Regions from separate parts of the Homo sapiens genome. Here all the other regions are linked to region 1. The links come from fine-mapping of genetic effects on gene expression. A gene starts in region 1. Each other region holds a variant in brackets. All regions are shown on one strand. Distances are from middle to middle.

Region 1 (9,839 bases):
AGACAGGGGCAGTGAGACAAGCAATAGTAGTGGGAGCCAGAGAAATCAAGGAGGGAAACCAGCCAAAGCTGCTTGAAAAGTGGAAGTTAGCCTTCCGGATGGTTAGGGAGACATGGACCAGGTAGGGTAACTGTCTCCACCAAGAGACTCATCTGTAGAAAAGTGAACGCACTGGAAAGGGGAGAAATCTAATTAAAGAGTCTTCAGAGCGATGACAGCCAGAGTGTGCGAGCACGGAAGGGCGAGGTATCCGTTCCTGGATCCTCCCCTAAGGCACCTGACTCGGCCTGCCTAGGTCAGCACAGCCCCCTCACGAGTCTCGGCCTTGGGCCTTCTCTGACGTCGCTGGGAGGAATATAGGAGGAATCTGTGAGATCCTTGGAAGGTGGAAACCAACTGCGGGAAAGGACAAATCTCCCAGACCCAACCCCTCACCTCCGCCCAAACTTCACCTCCGACTTATCGTCCCCAATTCAGGCTCCCAGGCTTGCCCCAGTTCCTCCAGCCCCTTCCGCACCTCTCTCTTCGACGCTCTCCCGCGTCTCCCGGGCCCTCTACTCACCCTGCGACCAGGATGATAACGCGAAGCGGGTCCCCAGCCACAGTGATCAAGAAAAGCGCGAAGGCCGGGCCGAACGCGACGAAAGTGCAGCCGAAAAACACCGCAGCCCCCATGGCTGGTCAGGTGGGAAGGGGGGTGGGGGCCTGACCAGGACAGGCAAATGGGAGGGGCGCGCCAGCTGGGGAGTCCGCGTGGGGTGGCAACGCGACCCCACGAGGGGCGCGGTGCAATGTCACCCCCAGACCCCGGGGAAGGGGAAGGGGGGGAACCGAAACCCCAAATGAAGGTCCGCGCCACTTCCTCTACGGAAGCCGAAGAGGGGACAAATCCCGGCCGCAGCCCCACGGCCACCTCCCATCTAATCCCCACCCCCGGAAGGCCAATGGAGAATCAGCGCGGGCGGAGCTGCTCGACCTGCTGGGAGTTGTAGTCGCCTTCCGAGGCCTTGACTTCGTCCTGGGAGTGGCTCGAGCCGGTTAATGGGGGTGGGCCGGGAATGGACCAGTCGAGACACCAATTCCAGGGTTCGGTTGCGCTTCCGTCGCTGTTTCCTTTCGTCACTTTGTGGGGAAAAGTGGTAGCAATCATACCTCTTCTTGAAGGGCTGCAGAGGGGGTAGATCCTGTTTGAATCTAAGGGACAAATACAAAGAGAGCACAGGATGGGGCGCAGGGAGATAGGGACGGGTATTGTTCTTACTTGAATGAGAGGAAATGGGCTAGAGCTGCTGCCTAAGAGATGAAGATTACATTAAAAAGTAGGAGCTCTTCGGACAGACTAGTATAATAAACATGGAATACAGTATATCGCTAATGAAGCCTTCATCTGTAATGACAAGAGAATCGGAGAGAAGCAAAAGGAGCCTGGAGAGAAATGTTAGGAAGGCATTTTGAAAGAGTCCGGGAGTTTAAAAGCAATTAGAGCGATGGGGTTGAAGGAAAACGACACCCCCACCCCACCCCCGCCATAAATTCCTTTTATGTCATACTTCCTCTATTTATTTTCTGAAAAATGAACCTCAGTGGTGCGTTTTCCTGAGGCTGAGAGGGGTTGTATATTAGAGTGAATGAAAGTTAAAGTAGGCTGAGCGCGGTGGCTCACCCCTGTAATCCCAGCACTTTGGGAGGCCAGGAGTTTGAGACCAGCCTGGCCAACATGGCGAAACCCCATCTCTACTAAAAATACAAAAATTAGCCAGATGTGGTGGCGCACGCCTGTAATCCCAGCTACCTGGGAGGCTGAGGGGCAAATATAGCTTGAACCCAAGAGGCAGAGGTGGCAGTGAGCTGAGATTGCGCTACTGCACTACAGCCTGGGCAACGGAGTGAGGTTCTGTCTCAAAAAAGAAAAAGAAAGTTAAGTAGGAGAGGAGGGTATTGTAATCTCATTTGGATGGGGAGAGGTTAGTCCTTAGGGAAGATGTTAGGCAAAGGAATCTGAGGATGGAAAAGAGGAAAGAAATCTGGAATATTGTTTTTGAAAGCATAATCAAAGTACCAAAAAAAACCCCACAGAAATTGTTTAAAGATAACCAAACTTCCTTTCCTTCCTGGAAGTGATTTATTATTTAATCCATATGTGCACACTCACATACATGTTTTACATGTCTTCCAGGATATTCTGGAAAGGAGCTGAGGAATAGATTGTATAGATTTACACGGAGGCTGGTCACAGTGGCTCATGCCTGTAATCCCAGCACTTTCGGAGGCCAAGGCGGCTGGATCACTTGAGGTCAGGAGTTTGAGACTAGCCTGGCCAGTGTGGTAAAACCCCATCTCTACTAAAAATACAAAAAATTAGCCAGGCATGGTGGTGCGCACCTGTAGTCCCAGCTACTCAGGAGGCTGAGCCACGAGAATAGCTTGAATCTGAGAGGTGGAGGTTACAGTGAGCTGAGATCCCACCACTGCACTCCAACCTGGGCGACAGAGCAAGACTCTGTCTCTGAAAAAAAAGAAAGAAAATATTTACATGGAAAGTCACCAGGCAAATTATTCCCTAATGAGACTAAGAGGGTAGCTGGGCGCAGTGGCTCACGCCTGTAATCCCAGCACTTTGGGAGGTCGAGGCAGGCAGATCACGAGGTCAGGAGATCGAGACCATCCTGGCTAACACGATGAAACCCCGTTTCTACTAAAAATACAAAAAATTAGCCAGGCGTGGTGGCGGGCGCCTGTAGTCCCAGCTACTCAGGAGGCTGAGGCAGGAGAATGGCGTGAACCCAGGAGGCGGAGCTTGCAGTGAGCCGAGATCGTGCCACTGCACTCCAGCCTGGGCAACAGAGTGAGACTCCGTCTCAAAAAAAAAAAAAAAAAAATTAAGAGGGTAGCGTTATCATGACCTGTGTTCAAGACTCCAGTATGTCCTGCTTCTGAGCCCAGCAGGCAGAGTAAGGTGGATAGGAATGAGACAATTCTCATGTCTTTTTTTTTTGAGATGGAGTCTCACTCTGTTGCCTAGACTGGAGTACAGTGGTGCTATCTCGGCTCACTGCAACCTCTGCCTCCCAGGTTCAAGTGATTCTCCTGCTTCAGCCTCCCTAGTAGCTGGGATTACTGGCGCCTGCCACCAAGCCCAGCTAATTTTTGTATTTTTAGTAGAGACAAGGTTTCACCATGTTGGCCAGGCTGATCTCCTGACCTCAGGTGATCTGTCCGCCTAAGCCTCCCAAAGTACTGGGATTACAGGCGTGAGCCACTGTGGCCAGCTTCATCTCTCCATTGAGCTGTTACCACAGCATCTTCTGACCATTGACAGGAGGCTGTAAACCTATCTTGTTCATGGGTGTTTCCACAGACACTTGCATAGTGCCTGACTCATAGTAGATGTTGAGCAGATACTTATTAACTTCCCTTAAGAACAAAGCAAAACTGTCTTTTCTTATTCCCTTGCCTATAAGCTCTCAATTGCCTATCACACTAGGCCTAGCACACTGTGCCTAGCACGTATGTTGCTAAGGGTTTCTGAATTGAATGAACATGGGAAACATAAAAGCAGAGGAAAGGATAAAAACTCTACACCTGTAGGACGGAATGAAGGGAACATACCAAGTGACTGAATGTGGGAGGGAAGGTGTGGCACCTGTAGCAGGGAAAGAGACTATCTGCTTTCTCCCTTCTTCCAACCTGCATCCTGGAAGTTGAGAAAGAGATGAGGTGAGGCCGGGCACGGTGGCTCATGCCTGTAATCCCAGTACTTTGGGAGGCCAAGACAGGTGGATCATCTGAGGTCAGGAGTTCGAGACCAGCCTGGGCCAACATGGTGAAACCCCGTCTCTACTAAAAATACAAAACTTAGCTGGGCATGGTGGCACGCGCCTGTAGTCCCAGCTACCAGGGAGGCTGAGGCAGGAGAATCACTGGAACCCGGGAGGCAGAGGTTGCAGTGAGCCGAGATCGCGCCACTGCACTCCAACCTGGGTGACAAAGCAAGATTCTGTCTCAAAAAAAAAACAAAGAGGTGAGGTGAGGTCAGTGTTACCAGAAAGGAAATAACTGACCATGGCTGAGAGACTTTTAGCTGAAGCCATGCAGCAGGTGCTTTAAGTCAGACAATGATGGGTAAATATTGTTCCTATTCTCTATAGCTCCAGACAGACAGAAGAAAGGGATTCTTTTCAGTCTAGAAAAATGCTCACCCCTTCCTCAGAACATTTCCACTGTGACGAAAAGAGACTGATGAAGCCTCAGAGAGAAAGGCAACTCTGGGTGGTGATGGTAAGTCAGAGACAGTGAGAGGGAGGGTGAACTTTTTATGAGGCCTTGGAGGAAGGAAGGAAAGCCGGGAGAGGGGAAACTTCTTGGTAGGCTTATTTTTTATTTTTATTTTGGTAGTGACAGTGGGAGTCTTGAATGGATCTAATCTAGGGCAGGGGGAGCTTAAGAAACATGTTTGCATCAAAACCCCCTTTTGCCTCTCAATCTGGGCAGCTCTGGCTGGGGACCGGCAGTAACCGGAGATCTAGTCAGTCAGCCAGTAGGCGGGGAGTTCTGCCCCCTGGGAGGAGAAGAGTTGCTGCAGCTCCTTCCCTGCTTTGGAGGAGGAGGGGAGGCGGGGTAAGTTTGGTGGGAAACTCTGTAATTTCCTTTTTTACTTTCACAGCAATAGTGCAGAATCCAGAATGGATGTCCTCTTTGTAGCCATCTTTGCTGTGCCACTTATCCTGGGTAAGTCCACTCCTCTCTCTGAGCTTTTGTGCCAGGTCTTCTACCATAAATGGGGTGGGAGAAAAAAAATGAGGAGTGGGTGAGAGGTACATTTCAGTGGGGAGCGATAGAGTTTTCTCATCGTGCTGGGGTCCGGTGTTGAGGGCAGAATGGAGATCTGGAAGGCAGAGCCAGGAAAGGGGGAAAAAAGCAGAGTCCTGTCAAACAAGGAGGATGGAGCTCCAGACACAAGGAGGCCCTAGCAACACTGAGCTCAGTTCTCCATCACCACGGAAGTTGAACAAGATGACAGGGGCTAAAGTAAGGGTGAAGGAGGGATTATTGGAAGGTGTCACAGTCTGAAACTAGTAGTTAGGGTATCTCCTTTCCCAGAGAATTGGAGAAAAAAACCTGCTATTAGTAAAGACACAGAAGTGGGGTGACCTTTAGGGTAGTGGAAAACTGGCTGTCTTCAGGGACAGGGTCCCAAGAGTAGCTTGGCTCCTTCCCTCCTTTGTTCCCCAGTCTACCAGGTGTGTCTCATTGTTTCCTTTTCCTCTAGATTCTTGTGTCATTAGCTTGGAGTTGAAGGGAAAGCATTCAAGGAGCTCAGGGAAGTGTTTAGCAGGAGGCCTGGAGTTCTTGATCCAGTCATATCAAAGCCACATATTTTTAGTTCTGAAAGGGAAGAAAAACTAACAGAGATGGGTCATTTTAGTCCAGCTGACTCATTTTAAGAAAGCGGATGTTAAGTGGATTGTTCAGGGTTATTCTGTTAGCAGTGAAGGTGGAACTAAAGCTCAAATCCAAAGCCTAAGGGTGTATGTTAGTTATTTGTAAGAGATACTGATAAGAAAAGATGTCTCACAAATACAGTAAGATCTGGAGCATACTAAATAGAAGACTTGGCGTTTTTAATTCCTGGTCTCTACTTTTCCTACCTTTTTTAGGTCTGGTTCTCCCTTTGGGTTTATAGTATGTGAAGGGGACTGTTTTCTGTTTTAGGAGTTCCTGGATTGAAAGGGCACGGAGTAACAGGCCTCATTACAGATATGGATCCCAGAAGACTGAGAGGGGTGTAGAGGTGCACAGGCAAGAAAGGAGTATGACTATTGGAGGAGAGAGAGAGAGAGAGAAAAGAAAGAAAGAGCAAGAAAGCTGGGAGCGCTGAGGTCATCTCCAGGTGTCCTTTTGTTAGTAAGGTGTTCCAGATGTCCCTTGACCTCTAGTCCTTGTCCCCATAGGACAAGAATATGAGGATGAAGAAAGACTGGGAGAGGATGAATATTATCAGGTGGTCTATTATTATACAGTCACCCCCAGTTATGGTGAGTACATGAAAGGCTCTTGCCCTTAGCCAACTGGAGAGAGGCTTCAGGATATTTAGTTCTGAGACTTTGCTCTTCACTTTGAAGCAGAGCAATGGGGTCAGAGAAAAATCTGGCTATGAACAAAACCTATCAAGACTCATGATGGGGCCGGGCGTGGTGGCTCACACCTGTAATCCCAGCACTTTGGGAGGCTGAGGCGGGCGGATCACGAGGTCAGGAGATCGAGACCATCCTGGCTAACACAGTGAAACCCTGTCTCTACTAAAAATACAAAAAATTAGCCGGGTGTGGTGGCGGGTGCCTGCAGTCCCAGCTACTTGGGAGGCTGAGGCAGGAGAATGGCATGAACCCGGGAGGCAGAGGTTGCAGTGAGCTGAGATCGTGCCACTGCACTCCAGCCTGGGTGACAGAGCAAGACTCCATCTCAAAAAAAAAAAATGAAAAAAGATTTATGATGGGCTGGGCGCAGTGACTCATGCCTGTAATCCCAGCACTTTGGGAGGCTGAGGTGGGTGGATCACCTGCGGTCAGGAGTTTGAGACCAGCCTGGCCAACATGGTGAAACCCTGTCTCTACTAAAAATACAAAAATTAGCTGGGCATGGTGGCACCTGCCTGTAGTCCCAGTTATTCAGGAGGCTGAGGCAGGAGAATCGCTTGAACCTGGGAGGCAGAGGTTGTGGTGAACTGAGATCACACCACTGCACTCCAGCCTGGGCGACAGAATGAGACTACGTCACAAAAAAAAAAAAAGACTCATGATGATGTTATTTTTCCAGATAGTGATTTTTAGATGGGAGGATTGCTTGAGCCCAGGAGTTCAAGACCACCCTGGACATCATAGCAAGACCTTGTCTCTATAGAAAAAAAAATTTTTTTTTTTTGAGACCAAATCTCATGCTGTCACCCAGGCTAGAGTGCAGTGGCACAATCTCAGCTCACTGCAACCTCTGCCTCTCGGCTTCCAGCTATTCTCTTGCCTCAGCCTCCTAGGTAGCTGGGACTACAGGCGTGTGCTACCATGCCCGGCTAATTTTGTATCTTTAGTAGAGACAAGGTGTCACCATGTTGGCCACGCTGGTCTTGAACTCCTGATCTCGTGATCTGCCCACCTCAGCCTCCCAAAGTGCTGGGATTACAGGCTTGAGCCATCGTGCCCGGCCAAATTTTTTTTTTTTTAATTAGCTGGGCATGGTGGCACATGGCTGTAGTCCCAGCTACTCAGGAGGCTGAGGCAGGAGGATCACTTGAGCTCAGGAGCTGGAGGTGGCAGTGAGCTATGATTGAACCAACTGTACTCCAGCCTGTTAACACAGTGAGACCCTGACTCTAAAAAAAGAAGAACTTGAAAATTTTTCAAATTTGTAAATTATTTTAGATACCTACATTGAAAATATAAATGCATACACATTCACAGTCATTTTTAACATTAGTTAAATAAAATTGGATTATACCAATAAATGTTACAACTTAAGTTAAACTATTCTGAGTAATTTCTTCCCTTTTCATTTCCAGATCTAGAGTTACATTTTTCTTTAATTATTACTGATTTTCTTTCTCCTCTGCAGATGACTTTAGTGCAGATTTCACCATTGATTACTCCATATTTGAGTCAGAGGACAGGCTGGTGAGTGAACTCTACATCTAAAAGGGTTAGGATAAGTAACAATTAAAAAGAAACTGGCCGGGCGCAGTGGCTCATGCCTATAATCCCAGCACTTTGGGAGGCCAAGGCGAGTGGATCATTTGAGGTCAAGAGTTTGAGACCAGCCTGGCCAAAATGGTGAAACCCCGTCTCTACTAAAAATACAAAAACATTAGTTGGACATGGTAGCATATGCCTATAATCCCAGCTACTCAGAAGGCTGAGGTAGGAGAATCACTTGAATCCGGGAGATGGAGGACGCAGTGAGCCAAGATCGTTCCACTGCACTCCAGCCTGGGTGACAGATCCAGACTTCATCTACAAAAAAAAAAGAAAAAAGAAAAGAAAAGAAACTGGGCAATGTTGAAATGTATCTGATTAACAAGAATAAAAATGAGTTTGATGAGGAGAAACTAAGTAGTAGGCCCAAAACAGATTTGTTAACCTATCTGGGGAGGAGAAAAAAGCCAGAACTTTATAAATTGTCCTCAGTAAGTTTGCTAAGACACTGAGGAGGGGCATCAAGGGACTTTTGAATGAGATGGGTACAAATCTATGCAAGCATAGGGTAGGGGGGAATCCCTGAGCTTAAGTCTTTGGGCTGGGTGGAGGTGGTGAAGGGGAGAACTTTAAGTAGAGAATCTATGAAGATGTTGGATGGAAAAACTGATAACTCTGTGTTTCCCAAATCCTACTGAGGGTAGAACAGGTTGGATAAGGACATAACAGAAGCAATAGAGACTACCATTAGTCTTGAAACAGCACGTGCAGACCATCCGAAGCCTGTAACTGTGAAACCAGTAACAACGGAACCTGTGAGTTGATTGGGGATTGGGGGCTGGGGGGAGACAGGACATCCCTAGTGACGTGGAATACATAGAGGGCTGGAATACCAGGCTTTGGTGGATGGGAGAACCAAATAATTAGTACTTCATTGCAGGTATTCATCTCAACTTGGCCATGTTTCACTAAGATTTAATACTAACCCTGTTTACAGAACACTGGGAAGATATGGTACAGTTAAATTTCAGTTCAGTAGTATTCAATAGGTATGTAATCTATGCCTAAGGCTGCTAAGGTAACTGATGCTGATAAAAAAGAAATCTATGTTACTGTCCTCAAGGATTTATAAAATTCAAGTTTACGAAACACTTAGAACAAAATGAAAAGGTATGTTATGATGTTAAATTATATATAAATTTGAAAGCAGAAGATACTGGCAGTGCTTTAGCCAATGTAAGAAGAGAGATTAGTACAGGCTAGAGTTGTCTGAAAAGCTTTCAAGAGGCATTTGTGCTTGAGATACACCCTGAAGAATAGATGAGCTTTTGATTGGTGGGTAGTTATGGAAGGACAGAAGCAATTAGGAGGAAGAATAGTTATTCCAAGAGTGAAAGAGGCCAGGTATGGCGGCTTATGCCTGTAATCCCAGCACTTTGGGGAGGCCAAGGTGGTCGGATCACTTGAGGTCAGCAGTTCAAGGCTAGTTCAATGGCCAACATGGTGGAAACCCCATCTCTACTAAAAATACAAAAGTTAGCCAGGCGTGGTGGTGCGTGCCTGTAATCCCAGCTACTTGGGAAGCTGAGGCATGAGAATCACTTGAACCCGGGAGGCAGAGGTTGCAGTGAGCCGAGATCACGCCACTCTACTCCAGCCTGGGCGACAGAGTGAGACTCTATACTAAAAAAAAAAAAAAAAAAAAAAAAAGAGTGAAAGAGCTGCACAGGAGGGGGGAATAGAACAAGCATAATATGTTTAGCAAATAGGGTATGATTGAAGGAGAGGGTATATGGAAGGGAACAGTGGGAATTAAGAAAAATATAAAATTTACAAGGCTCCTAATACTTGCTTAGTAATTTCACATGTGGCAACATAGGGGCAAATTTCAGAGAGTCTCAGGTGTCAGGCTGAAGTCTGGACTCATAATCAACAAGGAGCCTAGTAAGTTCTTCATTATGGTAAAAACACGATGAAAAGTGATATTTTAGAAAAACCGGCCAGGTGTGGTGGCTCACGACTGTAATCTCAGCACTTTGGGAGGCTGAAGTGAGCTGATCACCTGAAGTCGGGAGTTCGAGACCAGCCTGACCAACATGGAGAAACCCTGTCTATAGTAAAAATACAGAATTAGCTGGGTGTGGTGGCACATGCCTG
Region 2 (10,948 bases), 350 kb after region 1:
GCCTCGGCCTCCCAAAGTGCTGGGATTACAACAAGAGCCCCTTTCTTAAGCATAGTGATTCTCAACCAGGCAACCAGGCAACTCCAGGGGGCATTTGGCAATGTCTGGGGACTTTTCTGATTATTCTGACTAAGCAACTAATGGGTAGAGGACAAAGATGCTGTTAAACATCCTGAAATGCACAGGACAGTCCCTGCAACAAAGAATTACTTGGCCCAAAATGTCAGCAGTTCCAAGATTGAAAAACCTGAGTAAAGAGATGCTGGTCCTACAGGAAACGTCTCCTTTGTCCATTGCAGGAGCACCAGTGTGACAGATAAAACCATTTGAGGGGGGCCGGGCATGGTGGCTCACGCCTGTAATCCCAACACTTTGGGAGGCCAAGGTGGGTGGATCACCTGAGATCAGGAGTTCGAGACCAGCCTGGCCAACATGATGAAACCCCATCTCTACTAAAAATACAAAAAATTAGCTGGGTGTGATGGCTACCTGGGAGGCTGCGGCAGGAGAATCGCTTGAATCTAGGAGGTGGAGGTTGCAGTGAGCCGAGATTGCGCCATTGCTCTCCAGCCTGGGAAACAAGAGCAACACTCTGTCTAAAACAAACAAACAAAAAACTATTTGAGGGGGATATACCAGAGATGCCTGCTTGTTCCCCTGGGCCCTGAGTCCCTCTCAGACTTTCAGACCAAGTATTTTTAGTTTACTTCTGACAAAAATAAATTCAAGCCAGAATCCAAATTTGCTGTGAAATCAGCTGGTTCTAGAGAATAGGGTATTTTCCTATACCCTTCTTGGTATAGGCAAAACTGCCCCACAGAGGCTGTGCAATCAGGCAAAGGCATGCTCCTCTTGGCCTTAGTTTCACCATTTGTAAAACGAGTACACTGAACTCAATGATCTCGAATGTCCCTTTAGTTCCAAAACTCTGTACTTTTGGACATTTAAGAAATATCCTGGGCTGTACAGTTTGGGTCTGTAAAAAAGGAAATGACTCAAATGCAATAGAGGAAGCCTAAGGATGACTCAGACTTCCCTAATCATAAACGACACTTCAGACATGGACCTTAACGTCAAACCAGGATTCATGATCACTAAATGACTTTCCTTTTGTACGTGTGAGCAGGTGGCGTTCACCAGGGGTGAGACTTTATTGACAGTAAGTTGCCTCTGCCAAAAAACGCCCTCATATGTCTGCTGATGTTTGAATTTCTCCTATGCAGAGTTTTGTCTCCAGTTAAAAATGTAAATACTGTTGTTTCTTGTTGGAGCTCAGAGGAAAAAAAGATAACTACTCTAGGATATGTATCAATTTGATGCTACTTTATTTTATTTATTGAGACAGGGTCTTGCTCTGTTGCCCAGGCTGGAGTGCAGCAGTGCAATCACAGCTCACTGCAGCCTCAACCTCCTGTGCCCAATCGATGCTCCCACCTCAGCCTGCCATTGCTGGAACTACAGGCACATGACAACACGCCTGGCTATTTTTTTTTAATTTTTCAGACAGGGTCTCCTTACATTGCCCAGGCTGGTCTCAAACTCCTGTACTCAAGTGATCCTCCCCCTTCAGCCTCCCAAAGTGATGGCATTACAGATGTGAGCCACCTCACCCCAGCAAGTTGATTTTTAACAAAAGATAACAGCAAAACCCCAGATAAATTAGCAAACTACCTTCACAGCTCGATGTGAGAACTCTCTTAGTTTTATTTATTTATACACAGAGTCTCATTCTGTTGCCCAGGCTGGAGTGCAGTGGTGCAAACACAGCTCACTGCAGCCTTCACCTTCTGGACTCAGGCTATCCTCCAGCCTCAGCCTCCCACGTAGCTGGGGCCACAGGTGCATGCCATCATGCATGGCTAATTTTTTAATTTTTTTGTAGAGATGGGGGTCTCATTTTGTTGCCCAGGGTGGTCTCGAACTCCTGGGCACAAGCCATCTTCCCCTCCCAAAGTGCTGGGATTACAGGCATGAGCCACCACCTGGCTCCAATCTAAAATTTTATATTCTTGCTACAATGTTTTGAACTTCCAGGTTAATCATTTCTGCTTCTAAATCATCTGCTCTTTGACCTTATAAAGAGTTCTCTTAAAAATAAATAAATAATAGAGAAAGAAACAAAGAATTCTCTTGACCAGAGGTTTTTTTTTTTTTTTTTTTTTTTTTTTTTTTTTTTGAGACAGGGTTTTGCTCGTTGCCCAGGCTGGAGTGCAATGGCGCAATCTTGCCTCACTGCAACCTCTGCCTCCCGGGTTCAAGAGATTCTCCTGCCTCAGCCTCCCTGGTAGCTGGGATTACAGGCGCACGCCACCACACCCAGCTAATTTTTTGTATTTTTAGTAGAGACGGAGTTTCACTATGTTGGCCAGGCTGGTCTCAAACTCCTGACCTGACCTCATGATCCACCCACCCCAGCCTCCCAAAGTGCTAGGATTACAGGTGTGGGCCACCGCGCCTGGCTTGACCAGTTTATCACAACTTCCTTAGCCTATTTTCTTATCTAGCTATAATCAGAGAGATTCTTTAATCTTTCACCAGCACTTTCATCCCCTTGCTTCCTTCTTAGTATACTTTATCTGTCTACAAATCCTGACTCAGGATCTAAACAATAATGTCGTCCCTGCTCTTGTACCCAGGGAGCTAGGTGCTTCTAGAGAAAATAGCACAAAGATATGGATTGGTACCATTACATGTTCATGGTACCAATCTGTTAGAACCTCAACATTGCTTGCTTCCTAACCACCCCTCCCCACCTTTTTTAAGAGATGGGGTTTGGTTATGTTGCCCAGGCTGGAGTGCAGTGGCTAGTCACAAGCACGATAATTGTGCACTGCAGTCTCGTCCTGGGCTCGAGATCTTCCTACCTCACCGTCCCAAGTAGCTGGGACTATAGGCGTGTGCCACCATGCCTGGCTTTTATTTTTTGTACAGATGAGTTCTTACCATGTTGTCCAGGCTGGTCTGGAACTCCTGGACTCAAGCAATCCTCCTGCCTCAGCCTCCCAAACTGTCGGGATTATAGGCGCCTGAGTCATTGGGCTCCGCCCCTCCTCTCTTCTATGTCCTTTTATGGCTATACTTTTTACACTCCCACCTCTCTAACATCCTACTTTACAAGTCTGACTAAAGCTGTCAGACAACGACTCCTATAAATTACTTAGCCCCAGTCAAAAACAATCAGCTGGGAGTTTACTGTTATATTTTCGCCTTGAGTCTCCAGCAGGATGAGGCATATATAGTCCTACTTGAGACCACTTTCTCACTCAGTTGGCTTCCCAAGTAGACTAACCCCACCACCTAGTAGAGTGGCTGGCACACGGTAAGTGCTCAGCAAACGTCTGCAGAAGTAGACCATGTAACTAAACCACATCCACCTGTGCTCATTTCACCTCCTTTCTCTTCAGAACCCTGCTTTTTGGTTATTATCATTCTCTACTGAGCTCCAGCTTTTACTTATTCCTTTCACTCTTTCAATAAATATGCCTGAATTATTCCCATCCTAAAACAACCACAAAACCTCTCCATATTACTTAGTTCTATAAGCCAGATTTCACCTCTACAAATCCACTGAAATTGGTCTCAAAAAGGTTACTAACTGCCAAATCAAATGGATACTCCAGTCCTTTTTCTTTTGTATTTGGTGTTTGAGTTTTTTCTTGAGATGGAGTCTTGCTCTTGTCGCCCAGGCTGGAGTGCAATGGTGCGATCTTGGCTCACTGCAACCTCCACCTCCTGGGTTAAGTGATTCTCCTGTCTCAGCCTCCTGAGTAGCTGGGATTACAGGCACCCGCCACCACGCCCGGTTAATTTTTACTATTTTTGGTAGAGATGGGGTTTCACCATGTTGGCCAGGCTGGTCTTGAATTCCCAACCTCAGGTGATCCCCCCCATCTCGGTCTCCCAAAGTGCTGGGATTACAGGCGTGAGCCACCATGCCCAGCCCTGTCTACTCTTCTTTATACCCATTGTCATTACCTTCCTTGGTTCCTAATCATCTCTCACCTGAAATATTGTAGCAACATAATAAAGTGTCTTACAATTCAACTAGCCCATGATAATGGTTTACTGAGTGGAGTATGGAATTTCCACTTAGGTGTTACTTCACCTGAGTTACTTCAAACTTCACCATTGTTACTTCATTTATTATTTTTTGAGACGGAGTCTCACTCTGTCGCCCAGGCTGGAGTGCAATGGTGCTAACTCGGCCCACTGCAACCTCCGCCTCCCGGATTCAAGGATTCTCCTGTCTCAGCCTCTTGAGTAACTGGGATTACAGGCACCTGCCACTACACCCAGCTTGGCCTTGCCCCTTGGATGCTTACTACAGTTACTGTGAATTATTCCCAGTTTGCAGAATGTAATAACTCTGAATCACTTTACATAGTTCTTTCTACCCAGAAGACCCCTTTCCCGATCTAACCCCTTTACCTGAATAAATTCTTCTACTTCATCAGATCTCAGCTTAGAAGCTATTTTCTGTGACAGGATTTTCCTGTCCTTCCTCCACCTCCTCAAATTGGGTAGGTTCCCCTATTCTGTGCTTCTAGAGCATTTTGTGTTTGTCCCTGTCTTAGCACCAATCCCTTCTAATTCCTTATCTGTCTGTTTTTATTATATCCCTCTGTATACTGTAAACTCCTTGAGGGCAGGAACCATGTTTTATTTTTTTTTTGGAGACAGAGTTTTGCTCTTGTTGCCCAGGCTGGAGTACAGTGACGCAATCTCGGCTCACTGCAACCTCCGCCTCCCGGGTTCAAGCAATTCTCGTGCCTCAGCCTCCCAAGTAGCTGGAATTGCAGGCATACACCACCACATCTGGCTAATTTTGTATTTTTAGTACAGACAGGGTTTCACCACATTGGTCAGGCTGGTCTCAAACTCCTGACATCAGGCCATCCGCCCGCCTTGGCCTCCCAAAGTGCTGAGATTACAGACGCGAGCCATCACGCCCAGCTGGAACCATGTTTTACGCACTTTTGTAGTCCCTGAAGTAAGGCCTTTACAAGCCTTATCTTGCTTAATCATCACAACCACCCTCATGGTAGGTACCATGTCGTTACTATTATGCAAGTAAGTAAATTGAGGCAGAGAGTTAAAGAAACTTGTTCAGAGTTATAAAAAAAAATCAGGATTTTAAAATTTTATTTTTTTCAAGATGAAGTTTCACTCTTATTGCCCAGGCTAAAGTGCTGTAGCTTGATCTCGGCTCACTGAAACCTCCGCCTCCTGGGTTCAAGCGATTCTCCTGCCTTAGCTTGCGGAGTATCTGGGATTACAGGTACCCGCCACCAGGCCTGGCTAATTTTTGTATTTTTAGTAGAGACGGGGGTTTCACCATGTTGGCCAGGCTGGTCTCGAACTTTTTTTTTTTTTTTTTTGAGACGGAGTCTCGCTGTCGCCCAGGCTGGAGTGCAGTGGCGCGATCTCAGCTCATTGCAAGCTTCGCCTCCTGGGTTCAGGCCATTCTCCTGCCTCAGCCTCCCGAGTAGCTGGGACTACAGGCGCCTGCAACCACGCCCGGCTAATTTTTTGTATCTTTAGTAGAGACGGGGTTTCACCGTGTTAGCCAGGATGGTCTCAATCTCCTGACCTCGTAGTGAGGAGCTGAGACTGTAGTGAGCCATGATTACACCACTGCATTCCAGCATTCCAGCCTGGGGGACAGAGACCCTGTATCAAAAAAAAAAAAAAAAAAAAAAAAGGCCAGGTGCGGTGGCTCATGCCTGTAATCCCAGCACTTTGGGAGGTTGAGGCGGGTGGATCACTCGAGGTCAGGAGTTCAAGACCAGCCTGGCCAACATGGCAAAACCCCGTCTCTACTAAAAATACAAAAATTAGCCGGGCATGGTGGTGCATGGCTATAGTCCCAGCTACTTGGTAGGCTGAGGCACGAGAATCGCTTGAACACAAAAGGTGGAGGTTGCAGTGAGCTGAGATCACACCACTGCACTCCAGCTTGGGCAACAGAGCAAGACCTTGCCTCAAAAACAAAACAAAACAAAACAAAAAACAAAAACAAAAAACCACAGCCAGGCGCGGTGGCTCACATCTGTAATCCTAGCACTTTGGGAGGCTGAGGCAGGTGGATCACCTGAGGTCAGGAGTTCAAGACCAGCCAGGGCAACATGGCGAAACCCCGTCTCTACTAAAAGTACAAAAATTAGCCAGGTGTGGTGGCAGTCACCTGTAATCCCAGCTACTCAGGTGGCTGAGGCAGGAGAATAGCTTGAACCCAGGAGGCAGAGGTTGCAGTGAGTTGAGATCTCACTACTGCACTCCAGCCT[G/C]GGCGACAAGAGTGAGACTCTGTCTTAAAAAGAAAAAAAAACCAACAGGCCAGGAGCAGTGGCTCAAGCCTGCAATCCCAGCACTTTGGGAGGCTGAGGTGGGTGGATCACTTGAGGTGAGGAGTTCAAGACTGGCCTGGCCAACATGGTGATACACCATCTCTACCAAAAATACAAAAATTAGCAGGGCATGGTGGCACATGCCTGTAATCCCAGCTACTCCGTAGGGTGAGGCAGAATCACTTGAACCCAGAGGTGGAGGTTCCAGTGAGCCAAGATCACACCACTACACTCCAGTGACGAAGTGAGACTCTGTCTCAGAAAAAAAAAAAAAAAAAAGCAACTATTATTAATTAATTACTTGTCCCTATTCCTCTGTATAGCTAGACCACCACTGCTGTAAGTTTAACACTGTAATATGATTTCTTCATGTGTAGGTCACCACTACAATGTAATCTCCTTGAAAGAGGCAGCCACATACAATTTACCTTGTATTTTAGCACAATGCCAGGCATATTGTGGACACTTATTAAGTAACTGCACTGTTTAAATACTACCCACCTTTCAAGGCCCAGTTAAATGTCCATTTCCACCACTTATGTTTACCTAATGAGTCCAGTCAGATTTTCTCTTCTCAGAATTCTACTACTTGACTAACCATATGCTATCTTGCATTATATGTAGAAGTGTCTCAATTAGGTTACATGTTCCTCTAGAGCAGAGATGACCTCTTACACTGTTTATCTGGCCAAAAACAGCTTATTTTTCCAACTGCAAAGCGAGTATTCAGCAGTCACTTGGGACTTAAAATATTGCAGCCCAACCACGGGAGGTCCCACTTTATCTTTACTAGTGAAGTCATCTGTCTTTAATAAAATTCAGCTAACAGCTTATCTCCTGACTCTCCTTCCCTTAGCTTAGCTACTGGAACTCTGCTTAGAACTATAAATCTGCCTGTATTTGTGTGCTGCTGTCATATCTCAGGTTCCCCAGGATGGAAGAGATCTTTCTTTTTAATCTCCCTCAAGACCCAGTAGAGGGCATTATACAGACGAGGGCTGCTTGTGTGGGTGCTGTTGGCTCACTGTGGATATATCCTCAATGGCAACTCTCCAAGTTATTTTTCTTTGCCTGTCTTTGATATGCCCAGCCCACACCAGCTTAAAATAAAAGCTGTTGGACAGTAACGGTGACTTCATCCCTGCCACCCTGTATATTAGATGGCTCAGCTTAGTGGCTTGTCAGCACAATCAGGTTGGAGGAGTGGAAGAACCTTTGATTCAACTCTTTGGGATAAAGACTTTAGAATACATCTAGCTAAAATAATGAGCAGGAATAACTATTAGAAGCATTGCAGAATCAGTTTGCTTTGCTTGCCTAGCCCTACAGTATGGGAGTGAAGGAGATGGACTGTCAAGTTTTAAAATGGGATACATCCTGCCAAGTGTGCAGTGGTGAAGAACTAAAAGGAAAAAAAAAAGGCTAAGGAGTAACATGAAATACAGATAGCCCCAAACATTTTTGGCACCCCAGGCTTCTTAAGGCCACAAATTAAAATTGAGGACCAGGGAAGCCAGGAATAGTGGGAAGAAATAATATAAAAGCCTAAGATACTAACTCAAGCTCTTCAGCTAACTAGCTTTTCTACTTTACAAGTAACTTATCTCTATACCTTAATTTCCTCACTTGTATTAAAATGAAATTGCACTAACTGCTGGGTGTAGTGGTTCACACCTGTAATCCCTGCACTTTGGGAGGCTGAGGTGGAAAGACTGCTTGAGGCCAGGAGTTCAGGAGCAGCCTACACAACAAAACGAGATCCTCTCTACAAAAGAAAGGATGAAAATATATTCTCAGCCAGGCGCAGTGGCTTATGCCTGTAATCCCAGCACTTTGGGAGGCTGAGATGGGAAGAGTGCTTAAGCCTGTGTTCTGAGACTCACCTGGACAACATGGTGAATCCTCATCTCTACAAAAAATAATTAGCCAGGTGTGGTGGTGTGTGCTTGTAGTCCCAGCTACTTGGGAGGCTGAGATGGGAAGATTACTTGAGCCCAGGAGGTTGAGGCTACAGTGAGTGTTTGCACCCTGCACTCCATTCTGGGTGACTGAGCAAGATCCTGCCTCTAAAAAAAAAAAAAAAAAGAAAGAAAGAAAGAAATTGAATGATCCCACATTCAGCCTCATAGACCTCACCTCATTCCCCAGCTGGCAAACACAAACCAGGGATAACATACTCAGGAGGAAATCATGGGATGGCTCACTAACCCCACCACAATAAACACCATTAACTTGTGTCTCTAGTTTAAATTTGTACTTGTTTTATTTTATTCATTTATTTTTTTTAGATGGAGTCTCGCTCTGTCGCCCAGGCTGGAGTGCAATGGCACAATCTCGGCTCACTGCAAACTCTGCCTCCTGGGTTCAAGCGATTCTCCTACCTCAGCCTCCCAAGTAAGTGGGATTATAGGCATGTGCCGCCACGCCCGGCTAATTTTTGTATTTTTAGTAGAGATGGGGTTTCACCATGTTGGCTAGGCTGGTCTCAAACTCCTGACCTCAAGTGATCCACCCACCTTGGCCTCCCAAAGTGCTGGAATTATAGGCGTGAGCCACCGTACACCCGCTGGAGTTTTTTCTCCTTTGGTAACCTTTCTTTTGTACGTTACATTCACAGGCAGCTTTTAACTTCTTTCAGTAGCAGGTTTCCAGCAATGCAGATTGGCACATCATGAGGAAAGAAATCACTCTGCCTCCTGCTGGCCACCAGCAGAAAGACTTGAGTTTCTTTTGGCTTATTACAAAGAAATAATATATTTCTTTTGGTTTGTCACATTTCTCCCTCACAAACATGGGAACTTGAAAAGGAATGGAAGACAGAGGGAAAAGGAGACTGGGCCTCCTTTTCTGCTAAACCTGGACTAGGCTTAGGTGTCAAGAAACCATTTAGATCAAATATCTTAAATGCCTCATTTTGTGAGCCACAAACTGAGGTTGATGCACCTTCTACATTGGTTACAGAAACAAAGGGATGGGCAAGGTTTATGCCAACATTCCTGCTCCCTTTCCTAAGTGATGGTATTGGGGAACTCAGCCGCATCTCACATTAACAATGTCTTCAGTATTGTTTTCTTCCCCCTCCCAAACCCCAATAAAACACACCAACTGCTTCAGAATATTTCTGGGTTGGGTTTTTTCATGGGTTTTTGTTTTGTTTATTTCGAATACTGAAAAAGTCCTTTGGGCTCTGTGGGGTTCCCCACGCTCACGGCTCCTTTCTCCCACACTCACTGCCCTTCTTCCCACAGCAAATCTATTTCAAGGACAGTACTTTTTAAAATGATTAATGTTGAGTTCTCAACTAGCTCTGCAGAACTAGAGGAGCTGTTTGCATCTGTCTGTGCGGATGGAGTTTCTTTTATCTGACACCAGGTCTCCAACCACACTGAAACAAGGCATTTATCTACAGAGCTCAACTAGAACCCCTTTTCATTAGGCTACTCCACTTCCTTCCCCTCATACCTACCCCACATCAGCCACGTGGTTAAGAAGGATAGTCAGGAATGTTTTTACCAACTCCAAGCCCTAATTCATACTCCTCCATATCTCCCACCCCACCCTTTCAACCCCACCCCCACCCCCAGAATTTCATTGATATTTCTCCCAACTGTTATTTGGAAAAAAGGTAAAACAAAAAAGGTTCAAGGTCTTGGTGCTCAGCCCAAGGGGCTCCATGTGCTGGGACACCAACAGGAAAGGGCTTCTGCCTCTCCAGCCCACACCCGAGCCACCTCCTGACCCCTGGCTGCAAAAGCAGGAAGGGGCAGGAGCCAGCACAGGACCCGGGTGGGGCAGGGAGGGGAAGCGTCTCAGGATCTGGCAGAGCCCCGGGCAGCATCATTCAACTTGGCCACTGCGGACGAACACAGAAGAAAAAAAAAAAAAACAACACTGTCAAGTAATAGGGGAAAAAAACCCTGAACTCCAACCCAGTCTCTACCCCATGATTCCTCCACATTTAACAACCATTAGGCTACCTGGCATGTCTCAATCCTATCCATAAGGGAGTTGCAAAAAAAATCAAAAAATAGAATTTCAGTCTTTTCCTATCCACGAAACAACGTTATCTGCCTTTCTGGGATATCCATGGATAACAAACATAGAAAAATAATTCTTTAGATAAGATCAAAATAACTGGAGGTTTCCAGGTGGGTAAGCTGCCTGGCTCAGAGCAGGCTGTTTCAGAGGCATGGCCACAGCTACTTGCAAAGACTGAGGTAGCACAGAGATGAGGTGGTGACTGTGTGGAGGCCAGAACCAGACCACACACATGCTGTTCTGAATGGATTTAATAATCTAGGTTTAATCAAAGCAATTTGCATTTGGATTTTGGAATGACCACTCCTTGCTAAGGAAGCTATGTACTTCATGCTGTGGAAACTGGCAAATACAGAATGTAGCTTGTTTGTTTTCTTAGCCTTGAAGATGACCAGGTAGAGAGACAGAGTGAGACCAACAGTTTTTCTGATTTCCCTGCTCCTCCTATTCCTTCCTAAAAATCAGACTCATTGTGACCAGTAGTCTTGAGGACTCAAGCTGAATGATAGAGAAGGCAGCTCAGACAGAAAAGAAAAAAAGTACAGAATTTGAGAAGATCGGAGATG
Region 3 (10,948 bases), 120 kb after region 1:
GTATTTTTTTGTAGAGACGGGGTCTCACTATGTTGCCTAGGCTGGTCTTAAACTCCTGAGCTCAAGCAAACCACCCACCTTGGCCTCATATAGTGCTGGGATTATAGGCATGAGCCACTGCACCTGGCCCAGACATAATTTTTAAATAAAATTTTAGCTTTGCAGTAGTTTTGGATTTATAGAAAAGTTGTGAAGATAGTACAGAGAGTGCTTGTATGTGTGTGTATATATGTATGTGTATATACATGTGTATATACACACACATATACATATATACATGTATACACATATACACGTATACACATGTATATACGTGTATATACACATGTATATATATACATATATACATGTATACACACATATATATGTATATGCATATATACACATACACTATATATATATACCCGCGCACACACACACACACACACACACACATATATACACCCTGCATCCTGTTGCCCTTGTTGTTAACATCTTACATTAGTATGTTACGTTTATTAAAACCAATGAATCAATATTGATATGTAATTTTTTTTTTTTTTTTGAGATGGAGTCTCACTCTGTCGCCCAGGCTGGAGTGCAGTGGCGCGATCTTGCAACCTCCGCCTCCTGGGTTCAAGCGATTCTTGTGCCTCAGCCTCCTGAGTAGCTGGGACTACAGGCACACACCACCACACCCAGCTAATTTTTGTATTTTTAGTAGAGGCGGGGTTTCACCATATTGGCCAGGCTGGTCTTGAACCCCTGACCTCGTGATCTGCCTGCCTCAGCCCCTCAAAGTGCTAGGATACAGGCGTGAGCCACTGCACTTGGCCTAATATGTAATTATTAAGAGTCCATATTTTATGAATTGCCTTAGTTTTTACCTACTGTTGTTTTCTCCATAACTCCACATTTAATTATTATATCTCTTTAGGCTCCTCTAGATTTTGACAGTTTTGTTTTGTTTTGTTTTGTTTTTCCCTGCAGACAGAGTCTTGCTCTGTTGCCCAGGCTGGTGTGCAGTGGTACAATCACAGCTCACTGCAGCCTCGACCTCTCGGGTCTAAGCAATCCTCCCACCTCAGACTCCCGAGTAGCTGGGGCTATAGGTGTGCACCACAGGTATGCACCACTACACCTGGCTAATTTTTGTAATTTCTGTAGCAACAGGGTTTCACCATGTTGCCCAGGCTTGTCTCAAACTCCTGAGCTCAAGCGATCTGCCTGCCTCGGCCTCGCAAAGTGCTGGGATTACAGGTGTGAGCCACTGTGTCCACAGTTTTCTTTTAAGCTTCCCTAGATTTGGTCAGATATTTTGTAGAATGTCCCTCAATGTGGGTTTGTCTGTTTTTTTGTGGTTGTTTTTTGTTTTAATGATTAGCTGGGGTTATTGTTTCTTTGGAGGAAGACCACAGAGGTAAAGTTCCATTTTCATCACATGATATCAAGAGTGTCCATCCTATCAACATGTTTTACCGCTAATGATACTAACCTTGATCACCTGGCTGAGATAGTTTTTTTCAGATTTCTTCTTTTTTGAAGCCTCTTACACATTGTACTCTTTGGGAAGAAGTCACTGCACAGCCCACAATTTAGGGGAGTTATGCCGTCTACCTCCTTGAGGAGGCAGCATCTATGTAAATTTTTCAGAATTCTGTGTAGACATTAACAAGCACACATTTTAATGCATTACTGGGTGTACTAAAAAAGTAAGGGAGGTTTCCAAGGGTCTGTTCATTCACAGAAGTAAAGAGTCAGCTGAAACAGGAGCAGTGAGTAAGCTTGTGAGCAAACAAGACTGGCAACGTTTTCCTGAAGGCAAACGCTCACATCAGCACTAATGGGAGACTAAGCCTTGGGCCCCCAGAAACGTTGAAAAGCCCCTTGAGAAAGATGCTGAATTGAACCTGGGTCACTACTGCCCTTGACTCTCTGCCAGAGTAAATGCAAATACATTTTTAGAAAAAGCTTTCTCTGATTAGGCTTTCAGAATTCCCATAGATAAAATTCAACAAAATATAAGCTTACAATAAAAGAATTGCCAAACACAAAGAAATAAACAACTGTGGGTGAGATTTAATAGAAACAAACCCCAAAGACTTAAACTATTGAAATAATAAGATATGAAATATAAAACAACTGACCAGGCACAGTGGCTCACGCCTGTAATCCCAGCACTTTGGGAGGCCGAGGCAGGCAGATCACCTGAGGTCAGGAGTTCCAAGACCAGCCTGGCCAACATGGTGAAACTCCATCTCTACTAAAAATATTAAAAAATTAGCCAGGCGTGGTGGCACATGCCTGTAGTCTCCCTGCTGCTCGGGAGGCAGAGGCAGGAGAATCGCTTGAATCTGGGAGGCAGAAGTTGCAGTGAGCCGAGATCACGCCGTTACACTCCAGCCTGGGCGACAAGTGAGACTCCGTCTCAAAAAATAAATAAATAAATAAATAAAAAGAACCATGTATAAAATATTTAAATTAATAAAGGAATCTAAAATATATCAAGGAACAACTCTTAGACAGTTATGCAAATTTGAAAAAGAACCAAAGAGAAATGTTAGAAATAAAAGTATAACTGTTGAAATTGAAAACTTAGTGGATGATTTGAACAACAGATAAGACCATTGGCAAAGGGAGAATTCATGAACTGAAAGATCTGAAGTAATTTCCCAGAATGTAATGTTAAGAAATAAGTTAAAAGGAAGAGCATAATGAGTCTAACATGTGTGATTGAAGTCTTATAAGGAGAGAATTAAGAACAGGCAATATTTTAAAGGAATAATGGAGAAAATGGAATAATTGATGAAATATGTGAATATATATAGGGACCATATGCATATGAAGGAAGGGGGTTAAATAAAAAGAAATCTACTTGTACATACTTTATAGATAACTGAAGAATATCAAAGTCAAAGAGAAGCTCTTAAAAACAGTAGGAGAGGATGGGTATTCTATCCTCAGTATACAGTATTCTTACAGTATGAAACTATCACTGCACAGATCATGAAATGCAAATTGATAATTATAGATTATTAATTACTTACAAAGGAATGACAGATTGATAACTATGGAAGCAAGAGGACATTGGAATAAAATATTCAAAGTGCAGAGAGAAAACAGCCATCAAATTAGAATTGTCTACCTAGCAAAACTAAGTTTTAAGAACAAGGGCAAAATAAAGACATTTCCATAAAGACAAAAGCTAGAAACCAACAGATCTTCACCTAATGACCTTTATTTTATTTAATTCATTTATTTATTTTTGTAGAGATAAGGGTCTCATGTGTTGCCCAGGCTTATCTCAAACTCCTGGGCTCAAGTGATCCTCCTGCTTTGGCCTCACAAAGTGCTGGGATTATAGGTGTGAGCCACCACACTGGCCCATTAATGACCTTTAAAAGGACATATACTTCAGGGAAAGGAAAATAATCCCAGAAAAAAATCTAAGAGATAAAATGCAGTGCTAAGCAAGTAAATTGGTAACCATAAGAGTAAATCTGAATGAACATTTCCTGTATGAGATATTTAATTAGTATAGTTTAAAAAGCCAGGACAGGCCGGGATCAGTGGCTGACGCCTGTAATCCCAACACTCTGGGAGGCTGAGGCGGGCGGATCACCTAAGGTCAGGAGTTTGAGACCAGCCTGGCCAACATGGCGAAACACTGTCTTTACTAAAAGTACAAAAATTAGCCGGGCCTGGTGGTGGGCACCTGTAATCCCAGCTACTTGGGAGGCCGAGGCAGGAGAATCACTTGAACCTGGGAGGCAGAGGTTGCAGTGAGCCGAGATCGCACCACTGCACTCCAGCCTGGGCAACAGAATGAGACTCCATCTCAAAAAATAAAAATAAAAAAAAGGACAAAACTATCTCTGTTCGGTATTGTAGTTCAAGAAGAGAGTGGACTGGGCATGGTGGTGTGCTGTTAAGAAATGTTTGTGTGTTGCTCAAGGCCCATCTCTACTAAAAATTGAAAAAAATTAGCCAGGCATGGTGGCAGGCACCTGTAGTCCCAGCTACTCGGGAGAATCGCTTGAACCGGGAGGCGGAGGTTGCAGTGAGCCAGGATCGCACCACTACACTCCAGCCTGGGCGACAGAGCAAGATTCCATCTCAAAAAAAAAAAGAAAAGAGAGAAGAATAGAGTGATTTAGGGGTGGGTGCAGTGGCTCACGCCTGTAATCCTAGCACTTGGGAGGCCAAGATGGGTGGATCACCTGAGGTCAGGAGTTCCAGCCAGTCTGGCCAACATGGTGAAACCCCATCTCTACGAAAAATACAAAAATTAGCTGGGCGTGGTGGCACATGCCTGTAATCCCAGTTATCGGGTAGGCTGAGGCAGAAGAATTGCTGGAACCCAGGAGGCGAAGGCTGCAGTGAGCTGAGATCGCGCCACTGCACTACAGCCTAGGTGACACAGTGAGACTCCAAAAAAAATTGGGTAAAAATAGAATGTATAACTTTCAGCCACTAGAAGGGGGAGAACAATTTAAAAAATAAATTTCTTGGCCATGGCTCATCCCTGTAGTCTCAGCGCTTTGGCAGGACTATCGCGTGAAGCCAGGAGTTCAAGACTAGCCTGGGCAACATACATAGCAAGACTTCGTCTCTACTAAATAAAAAATAGCTGGGCCTGGTAACAAGTACCCGTAGTCCCAGTTACTGGAAAGGCTGAGGAGGGAGGATTGCTTGATCCCAGGAGTTGCAGATTTCTGTGAGCTATGATTTCGCCATGCACTCCAGCCTGGGCAGTAGAGCAAGACCCTGTCTAGAAAAAAAACAAAGAAAAGAAAACTTCCCCAAAAGGTACAGAGGTATGAAGGGAATAAAGAAGTATGAAGCATAGAAAAAGGCAGGGCAAATAAAAGCACAACATAAAATGATAGAAACAAATTCAAATATATCAATCACAGTTAAACATAAAAGAATAATTTTAGCAGTTAAAAGATAGGGATGATCAGTTCAGATTTTTTTTAAAAATGTGGCTATATAGAGAGACATATCTAAAATAGAAAAGTTAAAAGGCAGTTACTAACCAAAAACAATAAAAAACATACCGCTATAGTAGCTGCATGAATAAAGACGTTAAGACCCAAACCAAAACATTATTAAAGAGGGCTGGGTGCGGTGGCTCACACATGTAAATCACAGCATTTCAGGAGGGTAAGGCAGGCAGATCGCTTGAGCCCAGAAGTTCAAGACCAGCCTGGGCAACATGGCAAAATCGCATCTACAGAAACATTAGCTGGGCATGGTACATGCCTACAGTCCCAGCTATTTAGGAGGCTGAGGTGGATGGATCGATTGAGTCCAGGAGGTTGAGGCTGCAGTGAAGTGTGATCTGCCACTGCACTCTAGCCTGGGCAACAGAGAGACCCTGTCT[C/CA]AAAAAAAAAAAAAAAAAAAAAAACCAATAAAAAAAACATTGGGTGAAAGACTGTTGAGGAGCAGTATATAGTATTCCTACAGTGTGAATGTATCACCCCATAGATTATGAGTTACAAATTGATAATTATAGATTATTACTTTATTGTAGAGGGAAAAACATGCATTTATAATGCAGAGAGAATTTGGCATCAATAGTAGTGGGATGGCATGAAAATTATATGTCTCTTACGGAAGGTAGTGGGTGGTATACAATGCCAACAAAGTTGTATTCTTGCCAAAAATGTTTAACCTGAACCTACTCTTGAGAAAATGAATGAATCCTGAAATGTGGGATGTTCTGCAGGACATCTGGCTTGGATCATCAAAGTCATGAAGAATAGGGAGAGGTAAAGGGACTCTCCTACATTGAGAGATAATGAAAATCAAACATAAGAACTTTGGTTCTTGGAGTGAAAAAAACAAAGGTAAAAATAACAGTATATAAAAAAAAACCCCAACTATAAACAGTCTGGTGATTGTTGGGAAAATTTGATGATGCGCTTTATATCGGCTGGTGTTGCTGAATTAATGTTTTTTGTTGTTGTTGTTGTTTTCTTCTCTTTTCTTTTGAGACGGAATTTCACTCTTAAAAGTTGCCCAGGCTGGAGTGCAATGGCGCGATCTCGGCTCACTGCAACCTCCGCCTCCTGGGTTCAAGCGATTCTCCTGACTCAGCCTCCTTAGTAGCTGGCATTACAGGCATGCACCACCACGCCTGGCTAATTTTGTATTTTTGGTAGAGACAGGGTTTCTTCATGTTAGTCAGGCTGTTCTTGAACTCCCTACCTCGGGTGATCCGCCCGCCTCAGCCTCCCAAAGTGCTGGGTTTACAGGCGTGAACCACTGCACCAGGCCTGAATTAAGTTTTTTTAAGATATAATGCTGCTATGATTGTATGAGAGAATGTTCCTTCTGAAATATTTAGGGATAAATTATATTGCTCTCTACAATCTACTTTAAGATGGTTTGGCAAAAGAGAACTAAATGTTGTATATATAGAGAGATAGAGCTGATGCGGCAAGATATTAACGATTGCTAAATGTAGGTAAAATATAGGAATGTTTACTGAACTTTCAACCTTTTTGTGGAGTTTTTTTTTGTTTTGTTTTTGTTTTGAGACGAAGTCTTGCTCTGTCGCCCAGGCTGGAGTGCAGTGGCATGATCTCGGCTCACTGCAACCTCAGCCTCCCGGGTTCAAGCAATTCTCCACCTCAGCCTCCAGAGTAGGTGGTGCACACCACCATGCCTGGCTAATTTTTGTATTTTTTGTAGAGACCAGGTATCACCATGTTGCCCAGGCTGGTCTCAAACTCCAGAGCTCAAGCAATCTGTTTCCTCGGCCTCCCAAAGTGTTGGGATTACAGGCGTGAGCCACAGCGCCTGGCCACAAAAATTGCTTCTGCATAGGATAAAGGCAAATACAAAAGGCTAACAAAACAAAGGTTTTATCAGAAAATAAAGAACATCTTTATGACCATAGTATAGGGAAATAATTCTTTTTTTTAAATTAAATTTTTTTATTTCCATAGGTTATTGGGAAACAGGTGGTATTTGGTTATATGAGTAAGTTCTTTAATGGTGATTTGTGAGATTTTGGTGCACTCATCCCCTGAGCAGTATACACTGAACCCAATTTGTGGTCTTTTATCCCTCACCCCCTTCCCACTCTTTCCTCCTGAGTCCCCAAAGTCCACTGTGTCTTCCTTATGCCTTTGCATCCTCATAGCTTAGCTCCCACATATGAGTGAGAACATATGATGTTTGGTTTTCCATTCCTGAATTACTTCACTTAGAATAGTAGCCTCCAATCTCATCCAGGTCGCTGCTAATGCAATTAATTCATTCCTTTTCATGGCTGAGTAGTATTCCATTGTGTGTGTGTGTGTGTGTGTGTGTGTGTGTGTGTATACACATCACAGCACCACAGTTTCTTTACCCATTGACTGATGGGCATTTGGGTTGATTTCACGTTTTTGCAATTGCAAATTGTGCTGCTACAGACATGTGTATGCAAATATCTTTTTTTTTTTTTTTTTGAGATGGAGTCTTGCTCTGTCACCTAAGCTGGAGTGCAGTGGCACCATCTTGGCTCATTGCAACCACTGCCTCCGTGTTCAAGCAGTTCTGCTGCTCAGCCTCCCAAGTAGCTGGGATTACAGGCACATGCCACCACGCCTGGCTAGTTTTTGTATTTTTAGTAGAGACGGGGTTTCACCATGTTGGCCAGGCTGGTCTCGAACTCCTGACCTCGTGATCTGCCTGCCTCCGCCTCCCAAAGTGCTGGGATTACAGGCGTGAGCCACCGCGTCCGGCCGCAAGTATCTTTTTCATATAATGACTTCTTTTCCTCTGGGTAGATACTCAGTATTGGGATTGCTGGATCACATGGTAGTTCTACTTTTAGTTCCTTAAGGAATCTCCACACTGTTTTCCATAGTGGTTGTACTAGTTTACATTCCCACCAGCAGTGTAGAAGTGTTCCCTTTTCACTGCATCCATGCCAACTTCTATTAATTTTTGATTTTTTGATCATGGCCACTCTTGGAGGAGTCAGGTGGTATCACATTGTGGTTTTGATTTGCATTTCCCTGATCATTAGGGATGGTGAGCATTTTTTCATATGTTTGTTTGACATTTGTATGCCTTCTTTTGAAAATCGTGTATTCATGTCCTTAACTCACTTTTTGATGGGATCGTCTGTGTGTTTTTTTTTTTTTTTGGTAATTTGTTTGAGTTTATTATAGATTCTGGAAATTAATCATTTGTTAGACGTATAGATTGTGAAGATTTTCTCCCACTCTGTGGATTGTCTGTTTACTCTTGCTGACTGTTCCTTTTGCTCTTCAAAAGCTCTTTAGTTTAATTAAGTTTCAGCTTTATATCTTTGTTTTTATTACATTTGCCTTTGGGTTCTTGGTCATGAAATAGTTGCCTAAGCCAATGTCTAGAAGGGTTTTTCCATTGTTATCTTCTAGAATTTTATAGTTTGAGGTTCTAGATTTATGTCCTTGATCCATGTTGAGTTAATTTATTTTGTTTAAGGTAAGAGATGAGGATCCAGTTTCATTCTTCTACATGTGGCTTGCCAATTATCCCAGCATCATTTGTTGAATAGGGTGTCCTTTCCCCACTTTATCTTGTTTGCTTTGTCAAAGATCAGTTGGTACCACCATCATCCTTTACAGAATTAGAAAAGACAACCCTAAAATTCATATGGAACCAAAAAAGACCCCACATAGCCAATGCAACACTAAGCAAAACAAATCTGGAGGCATCACATTACCTGATTTCAAACTATACTCTAAGGTCATAGTCACCAAAACAGCATGGTACTGGCATAAAAATAGGCACATAGACCAATGGAACGGAATAATGTAGGGAAAGAATTCTCAAACGAGACACACTATGCTAGCCATAATAAAAATAATGATTACCATAATAAATATATAAATTCAGCATTATTAAAATTAAAATTTTCTTTCTTTATTTTTATTTTTGAGACAGAGTCTTGCTCTGTCGCCCAGGCTGGAGTGCAGTGGCATGATCTCAGTTCACTGCAGCCTCTGCCTCCCAGATTCAAGCAATTCTCCTACCTCAGTCTCCTGAGTAGCTGGGATCACAGGCACCTGCCACCACCTTCAGTTAATTTTTGTATTTATAGTAGAGAGGGGGTTTCACCATGTTGGTTAGGCTGATCTCAAACTCCTGACCTCACATGATCCACCTGCCTCGGCCTCTGGAAGTGCTGGGATTACAGGCGTCAGCCACTGCACCCGGCCACAACAGCAAGTCTTATTGATTCTGTTGGTGTTTTGCTTTTTTTGGGTGGTGGGGAGTCAGGTTTATTGTGTTATGATTTACATACACCAAAGTTTACCCTTTAAATGTACAGTTCTATAAATTTTGATGAATTTATAATTGTGTAGCCACCACAATTAACATATAGAACTTATATAAGTTCTGTTACTCCCCAAATTCTTCCCCATTTTTATTGAACCCCTTTCGTCTGTGACCCACTATTTGACCTTATAGTTTTGACTCTTCCAGAATGTCATGTAAATGGAGTGATGTAACCTTTTGAGTCTGACTTCTTTCATTTAGCATGATGCAATTGTAGTAAAACATACATAGCAAAATTTTGTTTCTTTTTGTTGTTAAATAGTATTCCATTTTAAGGATGTTTCACAGTTGTTGAAGGACATTTGGGTTGTTTTGTTCTTGGTAATTATGAATAAAGCCACCATAAACATTTCTTATTTATTTATTTATTGAGACAGAGTCTTGCTCTGTTGCCCAGGCTGGAGTGTAGTGGCGCCATCTCCGCTCACTGCAGCTTCTGCTTCCCGGATTCAAGCGATTCTCCTGCCTCAGTCAGCCTCCGGAGTAGCTGGAATTACAGGCATCCACCACCATGCCCAGCTAATTTGTTTCTGTTTTTAGTAGAGATGGGCCTTGAGCAACACACAAACATTTCTTAACAGCATCTTTAATTGTATTTATTTATTTATTTTGAGGCAGGGTCTCACTGTGTTGCCCAGGCTGGAGTGCAGTGGCATGATCTTGTCTCACAGCAACCTCTGTCTCCCAGGTTCAAGCCATTCTCCTGCCTCAGCACCCCACCCCACCCCCACCCCGCAGTAGCTGGAATTACAGGCACCTGCCACTATGCCTGGCTAATTTTTGTGTTTTTATATTTATTTTATTTTATTTTATTTTTTTTGAGACGGAGTCTCGCTCTATTGCCCAGGCTGGAGTGCAGTGGCGCGATCTCGGCTCACTGCAAGCTCTGCCTCCCAGGTTCACGCCATTCTCCTGCCTCAGCCTCCCAAGTAGCTGGGACTACAGGTGCCTGCCACCACGCCTGGCTAATTTTTTGTATTTTTAGTAGAGACGGGGTTTCACTGTGTTAGCCAGGATGGTCTCGATCTCCTGACCTCGTGATCTGCCCACCTTGGCCTCCCAAAGTGCTGGGATTACAGGCGTGAGCCACCGTGCCTGGCCTATTTTATTTTATTTTATTTCCTTCCTTCTTTCCTTCCTTCCTTTCCCTTTCCCTTTCCCTTTTTTCTGACAGAGTCTCACTCTGTCACCCAGACTGCAGTGCAGTGGTGTGAACTCGGCTCACTACAATCTCCGCCTCCTGGGTTTAAGCCATTCTCCTCCTTCAGCCTCCGGAGTAGCTGGGATTACAGGTGCGCACCACCATGCCTAGCTAATTTTTGTATTTTTGTAGCAACCGGGTTTCACCATGTCGGCCAGGCTGGTCTCGAACTCCTGACCTCAAGTGATCCACCCTCCTCAGCCTCCCAAAGTGCTGTGGTTACAGGCATGAGACACCACACCCGGCCTTAACAGCATTTTTAAAAAAGCAATAATTTCTTAATTTTGATGAAGTCCAGTTTATTTTAAAAATGTTAACAGATGATATTTTCGTTACATATAAGAAATCCTTTAATTCAAAGTCATAAAGAATTTCTTCTATATTTTCTTACAGAAGTTTTATTTATTTTAATTAGTTTATTTTTTGAGAAAGGGTCCCACT

Alleles and levels. Positions count from the first base shown, and alleles are read on the strand shown. Sizes are in standard deviations (SD) of each study's normalised expression. Not every link is listed here.
For the expression in prefrontal cortex of the gene that starts at base 4,655 in region 1, allele G in region 2 goes with a higher level than allele C (large effect, 1.5 SD a copy in ROSMAP).

What was found.
Region 2: its variant is fine-mapped to the expression of C1orf54 in prefrontal cortex (ROSMAP, PIP 0.95).
Region 3: its variant is fine-mapped to the expression of C1orf54 in whole blood (INTERVAL, PIP above 0.99).

The regions. Positions count from the first base shown.
Region 1 is chr1:150,268,136-150,277,974 of GRCh38, forward strand. It overlaps C1orf54 (chromosome 1 open reading frame 54), which reads left to right and starts at 4,655. Exons shown (of 6, transcript NM_024579.4): 1 at 4,655-4,728; 2 at 5,952-6,035; 3 at 7,606-7,664; 4 at 8,387-8,497. The coding sequence starts at 4,683. APH1A (aph-1A gamma-secretase subunit) reads right to left here and starts at 881. Exons shown (of 7, transcript NM_001077628.3): 1 at 563-881. The coding sequence starts at 675. It overlaps LOC124904414, which reads right to left. Exons shown (of 2, transcript XM_047438213.1): 2 at 921-1,194. The coding sequence ends at 921. RefSeq lists a silencer at 663-1,120 and enhancers at 981-1,592, 1,174-1,223, 1,284-1,333.
Region 2 is chr1:150,612,663-150,623,610 of GRCh38, forward strand. It overlaps ENSA (endosulfine alpha), which reads right to left. Exons shown (of 4, transcript NM_004436.4): 4 at 9,463-10,197. The coding sequence ends at 10,182. Among named protein-coding and RNA genes, the nearest start is that of ENSA, 11 kb to the right of the region's middle. RefSeq lists a silencer at 9,991-10,285. The variant G/C (reference allele first, on the strand shown) is at 6,285.
Region 3 is chr1:150,388,089-150,399,036 of GRCh38, forward strand. All of the region lies in intron 1 of RPRD2 (regulation of nuclear pre-mRNA domain containing 2), which reads left to right. Among named protein-coding and RNA genes, the nearest start is that of RPRD2, 29 kb to the left of the region's middle. The variant C/CA (reference allele first, on the strand shown) is at 5,366.